Linked DNA regions of Homo sapiens. The protein of the gene in region 2 purifies or fractionates together with the protein of the main gene of each other region. This does not show direct contact. Each region holds a gene or a part of one and is shown on either strand. Other genes may lie near its edges.

What was found. Proteins that work in one complex are often made in the same cells at the same time.
Region 1: the proteins of BHMT2 (region 2) and TBCE purify together in Homo sapiens (affinity purification with mass spectrometry; 3 studies listed by BioGRID and IntAct, with this or other methods). This does not show direct contact.

What each region holds. Positions count from the first base shown.
Region 1 is NC_000001.11:235,447,419-235,452,972, reverse strand, and holds the end of TBCE (tubulin-specific chaperone E), read right to left. Parts: exon of another isoform or gene 4,625-5,554; coding exon 4,533-4,624; exon of another isoform or gene 4,304-4,532; coding exon 4,211-4,303; 3' UTR 2,768-4,210; coding exon of another isoform or gene 2,633-2,767; 3' UTR 530-2,632; downstream 1-529. Other genes in the region: B3GALNT2 (UDP-GalNAc:beta-1,3-N-acetylgalactosaminyltransferase 2), read left to right, coding at 2,633-2,733. UniProt on the Homo sapiens protein: Tubulin-folding protein; involved in the second step of the tubulin folding pathway and in the regulation of tubulin heterodimer dissociation.
Region 2 is NC_000005.10:79,079,740-79,086,776, reverse strand, and holds part of BHMT2 (S-methylmethionine--homocysteine S-methyltransferase BHMT2), read right to left. Parts: intron 6,091-7,037; coding exon 5,899-6,090; intron 3,969-5,898; coding exon 3,821-3,968; intron 3,586-3,820; coding exon 3,403-3,585; intron 3,150-3,402; coding exon 2,921-3,149; intron 1-2,920.

The DNA of each region.
Region 1 (5,554 bases), on a different chromosome or scaffold from region 2:
TTTTTTGGATTTTAGAATAATTGCATTATACTTAGAAGTTGCACATTCCAAATCTGAAAATCTGAAATGCTTCAGTGAGCATTTCCTTTGAGTGTCATGTTGGCTCTCAAAAAGTTTTGGGCTGGGCATAGTGGCACATGCCTGTAATCCCAACACTTTGGGAGGCCAAGGTGGGTGTATCACTTGAGCCCAGGAGTTCAAGACCAGCCTGGGCAACATGGTGAAACCCCCCGTCTCTACAAAAACTACAAAAAAATTAGCTGGGCATGGCAGCGCCTGCCTGTGGTCCCAGCTACTCAGGAGGCTAAGGTAGGAGGATCAACTTGAGCCTGGGAGGTCGAGGGTGCAGGGAGCTGTGAATGCACCACTGCACTCCCACCTGGGCAACAGAGTGAGAGAGACCCTGTCTCAAAAAAAAAAAAAAAGTTTTGGATTTTGGAGCATTTTGGATTTCAAATTTTCAGATTTGGAATGCTCAACCTGTAATGTTTATCACACCATGGGCAGAAAGAATGAGGATCTTCTACCATAATAGTTATGCTGTTGCTTTAATTCACAATAATCCACTAGGTTATTTCTCATACAGTATTTTTCTGAGTTTAAAGCAAAAGGTTATAAATCAACGTTCCCCTGCCTACAAAAAAACTCAGTTTCCATAGATTTGATCAGAAATTATTTGCAGCTTTAAAACTTAACAACAGAAGGCCGAGGCGGGCAGATCATGAGGTCAGGAGATGGAGACCATCCTGGCTAACACGGTGAAACCCCATCTCTACTAAAAATACAAAAAAAATTAGCCAGGCATAGTGGCGGGCGCCTGTGGTCCCAGCTACTCAGAAGGCTGAGGCAGGAGAATGGCATGAACCCGGGGGGCAGAGCTTGCAGTGAGCCAAGATCACACCACTGTACTCCAGCCTGGGCGACAGAGCGAGACTCCGTCTCAAAAAAAAAAACTGAACGACAGAATCCACTGATTGAGTGTGGCAGTCTAAGGATCCTTCAACCCTTCTGACCGATAAAAATAAGACACTGCATGAAATATAAGACATCATTTAAAACACAGTATTGCTGAACCAGAAAAAAAAATGAATCTGCAGAGACCAAAATGGAAACTAGAGCCCTGGGAAGAAATCAAGCACAAAGCTGGCTTTAGCTTCAGAGATTTCTGTTCTGGATTCTTGCAGCTTCCACTTTGGCCATCGAAGGTGCAGGGGACAGAAGGCACATGCAGTGTCTGTCAGTTAGAAGCCCTGCATAGAGCTGGGGTCCCAGAGCAGCTCTCAGTCCAGGACAAGAAATCAACCCACATCTACATGGTCCACTTTGATAGTCTGATTCCTTTGCTGTACTTTGTCTCATCTTTGAATATAATTCTTTTTTGTATCTGGTAATTCTGGGATCTGTAGTCTTTGCTGGGTCTGATTTTGCAGTTTGTTGTTTCTACAACTGTTGTTCATGGCGCTTGTTTTCTGATGCGGTCTTTTTTTTTTTTTTTTTTTTGTGACCATCTCATGTCTTTGGAAACTGAGTCCTCTATTTAAAATGCATTCCTACAGAGAGGATTTACATATTTACATTTTTTTCTGCCATGCATCTAGGAATACTACCATCTATGAATACTTCAGATTTTTGGCTTGGAACTGTTGGGCTTACACAGACTGACTACCAGCCCCAGACCTACCTAAGTGCAAGCTGTGGGTAGGCACTGAGGGGAGAGAGACTCCTTTCCATCCCACTGAGGGGCAAGACTGAGACAGACAAGCTGAGTGTGTTTTGTTTTATCACCCCTGAGGCTGTGGCCCCTCAGAGATCCTAGCTCTGTGTCAGTCTCCCATTAGTCTCCTGACCCTGGGCTTGGCCTTCCAAACCCAAGGATCAGCAGCTGCCTTCAAGGCACAGGCTGACTCAGTGCTTTCTCCTACCCTGTTTCTTCTTTGATCACGGAGTTGAGCCATGCTTTATAAAGGTTTTTAATTTTATCCAACATTTTTGTGTTGTCAAAACATTGAATGAGTTTCTCTCTGTGTTCTGCTACATTGCTGGAAATAGAAACCAATTCACGTAGCTAGGAAATAGTCTAGTGGTTAAGAACTTGAGCTTGGGAGTCTTTAATCCCTCCTCTTCATTTACCAGCCCTGTGACCTGGAACAAGTTTTTTAACTCTTCGTTTGTTCCTCAATTGTTAAGAGGGAAATAGTTCCTACCTCACAGCATTACTGTGAGATTTAAGTGAGATATTTACAAAGCACTTGGTACAGTCCCTGCAATATTGTAAGCATTCCATCAGAATAATAGCTGTTACTAATACTGCCATAGACACACCTTTACTAGCAAACATGAAACTCACTTGTGGTTTCTAAAATCGTTCATTACGGAATGGCATTTGTTGACTAACTCTTCATCCACACACCGCCTTGTTTCTGTATTCCACAGCCACAGGACTGTGGGACCTGGTGCTTTCCCAAATCAGGAGGTGCCACCCCCAAACCTCACCAGTTGTTCCACACACGGAGTTATCCTTGAAATAATTTCAGCATCATTAGAATACATAAAAGCTGTCTACGTGCATACTTTCTGATGCTCTTAAAACAGTTTCACCACTCTCAGATCGGCTTTGGTTGTTTCTCAACAGGACAGTCTGTGGCTGTGTGAGAAGACCTGTGAGACAGGAATGCTGTCTTCTCCTCAGTATTCTCCGTGGGAACTGACGGAACTGTGGAAACTGAAGGAACGGTGCGGTGATCCTTGTCGATGTCAAGCAAGATAACAGGGACTTGAATTAGCAGAGTCTAAAATCAGGGCAGGCAAACGATAATCTGAGTGCAAGTCTGAGGAGTCCCAGGGTTTAGCAGTAGACTGTATGGTCTTTCAAGAGAGTTCCAGACTGGCACTTTCACCCAGAACCAATGCGGTGTTTCTTAATGTTTGCACAAATTTCCTTAAAAATCAACTTGTACTGTAGCATAAGAAAAGTTTTTATTTATCTATTGGAAGATTATCAGAAAAATACCAAGTTATTTTATAAAAGAAAAAATATTTCTAAATCCTGATGCATTGTGGCTAATTAGTAATTCACCATTACCTATAGTTTTTGGTTAAAACTTGGCCTAGTTCAGAAATCTGTAGTAGTAACTGAGAGTTTGAATTTCAACCTGGATTGCAGGATAGCTCTGTAGAGCTAATTAGGATAATTATCAGACAAAAAGGAACTCACAGGAATGCTGTGTGATCATGTGATCACATATTTGAGCAGTGGTCACTTATACCAAAGTTTGGGGTTTCTGGAAATAATGTCAGATTTTGTGGATCTCTGAAGTGGGCAACTTGAACTAACTTGAAGAGGAACCAATATGATTCTCAGTTCTGAACCTTGGTTTTAAAGAAGTTCATTTATATGGTAGACTAATACCCAAATTTTCTTTCTGCCATCTAACATAAATCCTGAAGGTCACAGTTTAGTACTCATAGTTTTTAAATGCTAAAGTTGTGTGAGTATGAATAAAAGCAAATACCTCTCAGGGTTTTAGTGCCATCGGGAAGGATATTTCTAAATTTTGTTGACATTTTGAAAGAATTAGTTTTGCTTTCCTCCTATCATTGCCTAATGTTTACCTAATATGAGTACATTTCAATCAAAGCTGGTTATCACAGAAGAAGATATACTCAGCTTAGGTATAATTGTAGGGAAAAGCATGTGATTAATTTAAGTACTCTTAGAAATAGTGCAACTGAGAAGACAGATAATAGCATATTGTTATACATAGTAGAGGATGTCTCCCCAAGTTTAAGGGACATTTCCCAAAATGACCAACCAAATCATTTCTAGTAACCCTTTAAAATAGTAGTTTCAATAGAGAATTCCATTAAAACTAGTCTTATGACAGATATTAACTGTGTTCAGATTTTATTAGGCTAGCTAGTTTCTTTCTATTTAATATTTAAATCTTATCATGAAATGCAGTGATGAGCTGTAAAAATAAATATGAAATAAGATCAGAAAATCATTAGTAGGTTCAAAGCCTTTATTATTGCTATTATGTATAAGCCTAGAAATGGTCACTTCCCAACAAAAAATACATCCCTTGTTATACTTAGGACAAGTTGTAAACCCCCTTTGTTTTGACAGTAGAATTGTTCCAGTGAATCATTTATTTCCGGTGAACCCCAGACACGATAAGCAGTGTGGTCTTTAAATTTTATTAGTTGGTTGTCACCATCGCACTAATAGACAATCTCCATTTTCCACAGAATAAAACTGTAATGACTTTAGGTCATTTTCCAGCTCGATTTCTCTGCCCGGCTTCTAAAATTAGAACGAAGGTGGGGAAGGATGTGATTAAGACAGATCCGATAAAGCATGCTACACATACTCTTCCCCCACCCCGTCCCCAGGCAGTAGCTTACCCTTAAAATCAAACAAACAGACCCATGGTCTCCATTTAGAATCAAACTGTTGCTATCTAGAGACAGTTTAATGTCATAATACGAGGACTAAGCTTGACTTTGACTTTGTATTTTGCTGGGCAACTTACTTTGGGACTTTCATAGGACAACAGAAGGTCTGACACAGGAACTTTGAGAAGACGTGACAGCAATCCCTTCACCTTTTGAATTGTCATGGAGCCTATCAAAAGACAAGAAAAGTCCATTCGTTCTCTCAAATGACAGTTACCTGTAAAACTAGCTCATGTGATGAGACCACAGTATCATTGCAATGATAGCTGTATCTGTCTTTTTTTTTTTTTTTTTTTTGAGACTGACTTACTTACTTACTTAAGTAAGTCTTGCTCTGTCGCCCAGGCTGGAGTGCAATGGTGTAATCTCGGCTCACTGCAACCTCCGCTTCCCGGGTTCAAACAATTCTCCTGCCTCAGCCTCCTGAGTAGCTGGTGCCCATCACCACACCCAGCTAACTTTTGTATTTTTAGTAGAGACGGGGTTTCACCATGTTGGCCAGGCTGGTCTTGAACTCCTGACCTCGTGATCCGCCCGCCCTGGCCCCCCAAAGTGCTGGGATTACAAGCATGAGCCCAGCGCCTGGCTGTATCTTTCATTTTACCCAAGTCACTTTACCCAAGTAAGTAATTAGGGGAAAGCCTGAGTCTTGTACCACCTGTTCATTTGGGGAACTGTGGGAAACGGAGCCAACGGACCTAAGTGCCCTTTGACAGTGAGTTTCATACCATTTCAGTAGTGTATTTCTTTCTTAATCTGAATAAACCAGAATGATACTCTCAGCACAGAAGAATAAAGGGAGCGAGTCATTAACGTTTTCTTTTTAAACCTTTATGATGACTTCCTTATGAATTACTGAACGAACACTGGAATGGGACTCAGGTATCCTGAGGACATCTCTCAACTCTGGCCTTAGTTCCCCCTCTGTAAAATTAGGGTGCCAACTAAATGATCTACAAGGTCCCTTCCAGCGCCGCCATTCTGTAATTACATCATGTGTAACTGTATTAAACATACACAAGTGACTGCCAGGCATGGGAATGTAACTTCCGAGTAAATGCTTTGGTTTGTTCAGAATACACTATGAACTTCTTTCCAA
Region 2 (7,037 bases):
GGAAGTTAATCAGAAATCCCTAGAAAACCAAAGGCTATACAAAGAAAGTCAGACCAAGTATGAAGCAAATTGAAATATGGCATGGATTTGGACAATATATCCACGGGAATGCAAGAGAAGAAAATTCATTTGACCTTGATGCTTGGAACATTCTCCAACAAGTAGCTCAAGTTTTGTAAATAGGATTATTTCTCTTTATCCATGGTCCCATGCATACTACTTTGTTCTGCAGTGAACGTTTTTCTAAATGCAACAATTTTCTATTATTCCTGCAACAGAGTATTAGATTGGAAGTTTGACTGGAAACACCAAGGCATGATGGATTTTAGGTATCAAGGGGAGTTGCAAGACAGACACTGCACAGAAGTTAAAAGGAGGTGGCCACGAACCAGCCAGATGACTCATTTGACTGTCCCCTGGAAAATCTGGACCACAAGAGAACAATGGGCCAGCTACTTTGCTTGTGGGCAAAAGGGGTGCTGTTAAATTGGGGTCAGACCACACTCTCATGGCTTGTCTGCAGAAAGGGTGAAAGCTGTTTTGAGCCTAATGAGAGTGAGAGAGCCAGCCTGAACTATCTAAAATCTGGCCCAAGAGAATTACCGGGGAGGACAACAGGACCCCCAAATCAGAGTATATCTGGAGTGACCTGGTTGAAAAAGCCACTGTCTGAGGCAGAAGTCACAGTCAGAAAAATGCCTGTGGCATGAGAAGTACAGACAAAAGTTTCCAGTGGGAGCCTCTGAAGACCCATGAGCGTGCTCACAAAGATCTGCCAGGGTCAGAGGATGCCGGCTTCCTATCAGGGTGCCAGGCAAGCAACAACAGTCTTACTCCTTTATCCATCCTCTTTCTTCTTACTTTGAATCTGAGGAGGCCAGAAACCATGGTAGCAAGATGGGAAGGGAAGTTTGGGAGCATAACAGAGAAAGAGAAGCAGCGCGCTGGCCTCTCCTGGTTTCCTGTCTGTGGAAGGCTGTTGCTGGACAAAGGGAGAAGCTTCAAGTTTCAAACATGCTCTGAGTTTTGATTTGACATGAACCTGAACACTTTTATTTATTTTTTATTTTTGGGGTTTTTTTGTTTGTTCATTTTGAAATGGAGTTTCGCTCTATTGCCCAGGCTAGAGTTAAGTGGCACAATCTTGGCTCACTGCAACCTCCACCCCACTGAATTCAAGCGATTCTCCTGCCTCAGCCTCCCGAGTAGTTGGGATTATAGGCTCCCGCCACCACGCCAGGCTAACTTTTGTATTTTTAGTAGAGATGAAGTTTTGCCATGTTGGCCAGGCTGGTCTTGAACTGCTGACCTCAGGTGATCCACCAGCCTCGGCCTCCCAAAGTGCTGGGATTACAGGCGTGAGCCACTGTGCCCAGTCCTAAACACTTTTAATTACTGAACTGAGACTATCTGTGAAATAAAGTGATTATGGAACTTTCCATTGCCTAAGAGCACCCAGAGAAGTTCTAGAGCTGGTCAGTATTTTCAAGTAGGAACAAACGAAGGAATTCATTGAGTAGGTTTAAAGGGATAGAGGGAGACAAAAATAAAAGTGAATTCTAATTATGTCTCATGAGTCCTGCTTGTTTAATATAACAATTATAATAATATTGTAAATGTTATTCACTGATTTTATATTTTTAGGATCAACCTACAGAGAAAGCTTGAAAGACAATTATAACTATAGAATAGAACAAAATGGTTATAAACCTTGATGATAGTAAAGTATGGTAAAACTTAAAGACACCAAGGGGTAGATGAGAGAGGGAAGGTGGAAAGAAGCAGAGGGGAATCTATTCTTATTTTACAGAGAGTGGAGTCAAGAGATTCCTGCCTTATATTGATGAACTAAGAAACAGGTGGTTAAATATATAATTTTAACTTAAAAAGATATCCAACAGAAGAAATAAAAGTGTAACGAATCAAAACTGGAAAAAGGAGAACGGGGAAAAGGGGAAGCCTATGTGATTTAAATCCCTCAGCTTTCATAAAGGGTTATCAATAGTTACCACTTAAAACTGATGACAAAAGAAATAGAGGTACAAGATTTCAAAACACAAATGACAAACAGGTTTCCTCTGTGCCATGGTCTGATTGTCTGTGTCCCCACAATGCACATGTTGAAACCTAGTCACCAGTGTGATGATATTAGGGGGTGGAGCCACTGGGAGGTGATTGGGTCATGAGGATGCATCCCTGATGAATGGGACTAGTGCCCTTAGAAAAGAGGCCCCACTCTAACTTTGGGAGGCCAAGGCAGGCGGATTACGAGGTCAGGAGTTCGAGACCAGCCTGGGTAACATAGTGAAACCCCGTCTCTACTAAAAATACAAAAATTAGCCGGATGTGGTGGTGGGCGCCTGTAATCCCAGCTACTCGGGAGGCAGAGGCAGAATTACTTGAACCTGGGGGGCAGAGGTTGCAGTGAACCGAGATTGTGTCATTGCACTGCAGCCTGGACAACAGAGCCAGACTCCATCTCAGAAACAAACAAACAAACAAACAAACAAAAAAGACAAGAGGCCCCAGGGAGCTGTGGTGCCCCATCTACCATGTGAGGACACAGCAAGAAGGTATCATCTATAAGGAATGCCTGCTTCCTTATAGATGGCCTTTATCATCTCTAAGGCCTTCACCAGAAATTGAATCTGCTGACACCTTGATCTTGGACTTTGCAGTCTCCAGAACTGAGAAAGAAATTTCTGTTGTGTATAAGCCACCCAGTTTATGGTATTGTTCTAACAGCCCAAATGGACTAAAGACAATTTTGGGAATGGAGCTGGTATCAGGAAGGGGATAATTTTTACTTTTCACTTTATACATTTCTATACTTTTTGTCATGTGCATGCATGACATTTACAACAATAAATAAAATGAGATTAAAGGAAAATAATAAGAATGTTAATTTAAAAATGCTTACCTTGCTCTAATCCAGGGTTTGGTGTGCATGTCCAAACCACTTCCCCAGCTGCCGTGTTTTTCTGAAGCTGGTGGCAAAAAGCCCCTTTCTGGGGCCAGCTCCTCTGCAATTGCCCTGATGTGGTAGGGCTCAAATCCACAGCACCCGCCAATGTACCTGACCCCCAGGTTGTAGGCCTCTCTGGCGTATTTTTGAATATCCCATCTGGTGGCAACTCTGGACTCCAGTCCTGAATCACAATAGTTAACAGCATTTCTGTTACTGTTCTCATTTTCAAATGATGGATGCTCTAATGAGCAGTTTTTCCAATTAAAAAAACTATAAACTTTAGATGATGCATTCTTCTGATAGCTCATTTTTGGTTAACTCTGAATGTTTTGTCATATGCAGTCTCTTATTGTAAAACTGGGCCACAATTTATTATAGCCATTTGGATTTTGTCACGAGAAATACAAGGACCTCTACTATGCACCTGAGCTTACCAAAGGGATATTCTGGGAGATCCACAAACCCCTCTTTGCCACAGTCAGGCGCGTGGAACCCCAGAGGCTGCACCATGAGGTGCGCTTTCAGCCCTGCCCACTCAAGACCCTCCTTCATGAGCTCCATCGTCTTCAAGCTGGTGTCGGGCCCAAAGCGGCAGTTCACGCCAACGATGGAAGCCCCTGTGCAAAGAAATAACACTTACATTTTATTATTTATTTGTTTATTCTTTTTTTTTAATAGTTGGAAGGTACCTTAGAGGTTAGCCATTCCCCTCCACCTCCCACAATTTACAGATAAGAAAACTGATTGGAGTTCATTCTTCTATTTCCAAACTGCTCTCACAATATCAAGCACACTTTGTTAAATTTCGTAAGCAACAACTGAGCTGTGTATCACGGTATGGGTCCAAATTACCTGCCTTCACCAGCCTCACAGCACATTCTCCGGGGGTTATATCATGCATGTCTCCCTCTGGGCCTATGCACATGGTAACTGCCACGGGTCTATCTGATTCTTTTAAGACTTCCACAGCCCACACAGCTTCTTCAACGTGCTCAAAATACTAAGAGAAATGTCACTTTTTCTACTGGTCCAAACATAAAGCAGATTTTGAATGGTAAAGGTAAATATAGCAAAACAGTTATAAAAATTACCAAATAGAATATAAACATATGCATAATAAAACTTGCTAAGGAATGTGTGTCTATCAGACTGACTAAAGAATACCTTTCTGAGTAAACATTTTCATTCCTATAACAATAACATATAGTTTTTCATTCAGGGTTCATTGATTCAGTGAGATGATGCCTATTAGTAAAAAAGAAGAAAACACACCCAGAGGTTTTCAAAGTAATTGAGTATTTAAAATCATAATTTTGTAATTTTGAAGGAGGAAAAGTTTTGCTAATAAATTTTAGATTCATCTCTTATAAAACTGGGGTAATCTCTGAAACAATGAGTAGCTTATCATGTGTTATAGTTCAAAGAGCTTTTATATTCACTTCTAGTTAGATATTCATAAGTGCTCCATAAAGTAGGAAGGGAAGCACCATTTCCCCGGGTGAGAAGATTGAGGCACAGCATAGGAGAAATAGCTACTCCCTGTCTTTGCCAGTGGTGGACAGGACATCTTGTCTGGTAAACCCATGTCATTTTCTTGGGTGCTTCCCAGGAAGCCCCTTCAGTGCCACAGCTGAAAAGCTGACCTTAAGGCAACTAAAGAAAAGCCAGAAATCTTCCTGTTTCTTCCCTCTTGAGTTAGAAACAAATTCTGCAGAAGCAGTGTGAGGAATTATGAGAGAATCAAAAGACGGGTTCTTAAACAAACAGAGTGGTGTCATCATCCATCTGGAAAGCACAGAGGGTGGAATTTGTGCTTGTCCCTGCAGATGACTGTTCCCAGTGGGGTTGGCCAGGCGTGGGCAGGAGGATGAGGCAAGGTTTTCAGTAGAGTTCAGTGGGGTCACTAGGGGGAATAATGGTGGCGGCTATTCTCTCTCTCTCTCTTTTGAGACAGAGTATCACTCTGTCGCCCAGGCTGGAGTGCAGTGGTGCCCTATCTTGGCTCACTGCAACCTCCGCCTCCCAGGTTCAAGCCATTCTCCTGCCTCAGCCTCCAGAGTAGTTGGGACTACAGGCTCCCACCAACATGCCCAGCTAATTTTTGTATTTTTAGTAGAGATGGGCTTTCACCTTGTTCACCAGGGTAGTCTCAAATTCCTGACCTCATGCCATCCACCTGCCTTGGCCTCCCAAAGTGCTGGGATTACAGGTGTGAGCTACCGCGCCAAGCCAGGGGATATTCTCTTGTTTGGAGTAAAGTTGTGGGTTGAAGGCATGACCCCAGGCAGTAGCAGTTATGTTGGGAAATGGGGAATGAGGACTTTCGTTTTGGAAGTGGAGGAAAGAGAATGTTCTGGGCCTTCATGTCCAATCAATGACCAATTCTTACTGATTCTTTCTTCAAAATGTAATTCACATGTCATAGCTTGAGTGAAAGCAGAGAGGCAAGAAGAGCAAGACATGGATGGAGAAGGCTATGGAAACTACTGGGTGCTGAGCATTATTGGTGGGGCCTAGACGAGCCTGGATAGCCACCACCTTCCAGGCCTTGCTCTCTCAGTCCCCAGCCCACACATGCAGTGCCCTCCTGTGTGGATTCTCCCTCTGGAGAGGGTGCTCCCGGAGGCACTGTGCCCTATGCTTCCTTATAGGTTGTAGAGTCCCCCAAGTCAGCTTCTGCAGCCACCCAGACCTTAGAAGATAAAAGGCTATGGTCAGGCCTCTCTTGGGTCTGTCCTTTGGCTCTAAGAGAACCTAGCATACCAATGAGGGAATGTTGGCCTTGACTACCATGCATTTAAATAAACCTTTGACCATCCACATGGAAGAAATGAGGGCAGAATGTTGTCCAATACCCTCATGAAATGTGAAGACTCTGCAGTTATGCTTGCAAAATAGGTTCAATCCTTTTCCTCCAATACTAGCCTCACCTCTGCAATCAAGAAGTCCACATTTTTCCAGGCAAAAACTTCTAGCTGTTGTCGAAAAAGTTTTTTAATTCTAGCTTCATCCTTCTGGTATTTGTATATTGATGTCTGGCAGATCCCCCCTGCTACCAAAGCATCACCTTTGCCAGCCACTTCCCTGGCGAGGTCACAGGCAGCAGCATTTACATCTTCCCACTGAGGTTAGAGAGCAAGAGTTCAGATAGTGAGCCTAGCAGTTTGAAGGTAAAATATAAAAGATAACTAAAGGGACAATAAACAAGTAAGATGAGTATAAGCCACTCTCTTCAATGCAAGCAGAAAAGACCAGCAGAGTTGGGTACAATCTCCTCTGTTACCATGACCTTATATTTCCATTATTGTACTTACCACATTGGATTTTAATAACTATTTGTTTGCCTCCCATACTTGACCTTGCACCTCCAGATAGGGTCTATGCCTTTGTATCAACTTTGAGTCTAACATAGAGAATGGACTGTAACAGATACTCAGTACATGTTGGTTGGTTGAATGAATTAATGGGCATTAACATTTACACGTATTAACATTTTACATTTGCAGAATATTTCACAATACTTTCACATCCTTGGTCTTACTTACTCTTCTCAACAGGTCTATGAATTTAAGCACTACTGTTGTCTCCATTTTACAGAGAGAAAACCAATGCTCAATGCAGGTAGGTGTCTTACACAAAGCCACACAGCCAATAGGTGGCAATGCTGGATATCAAACCCGTTTTTTCTCATTTCTACTCCAGTATTGTTTTTTAGGGCCTCCCTGTCTCCAGAAGAGAAAAGTGTGAAATGAGAAGGTGAAAAGAGCATCTATGAAGTGCTTTCTCTCTAAAAAATAGCACAAGAAGACAGCCATGCCCTTCCAATGGTTTATTTTACCCCTAGTCCTGACCCCTCCTCTACCTAAATGGGAAGAGAAAGCTAATTCATTTAGTATATATTAACTTCTTTTTTTTTGCTGACATGGGGTCTTGCTCTGTCACCCAGGCTGGAGTGCAGTGGTGTGATCTCGGCTCAATGCTATCTCCCAGGTTGAAGCCATTCTCATGCCTCAACCTCCTGCGTAGCTGGGATTACTGGCGCCTGCCACCACACCCAGCTAATTTTTGC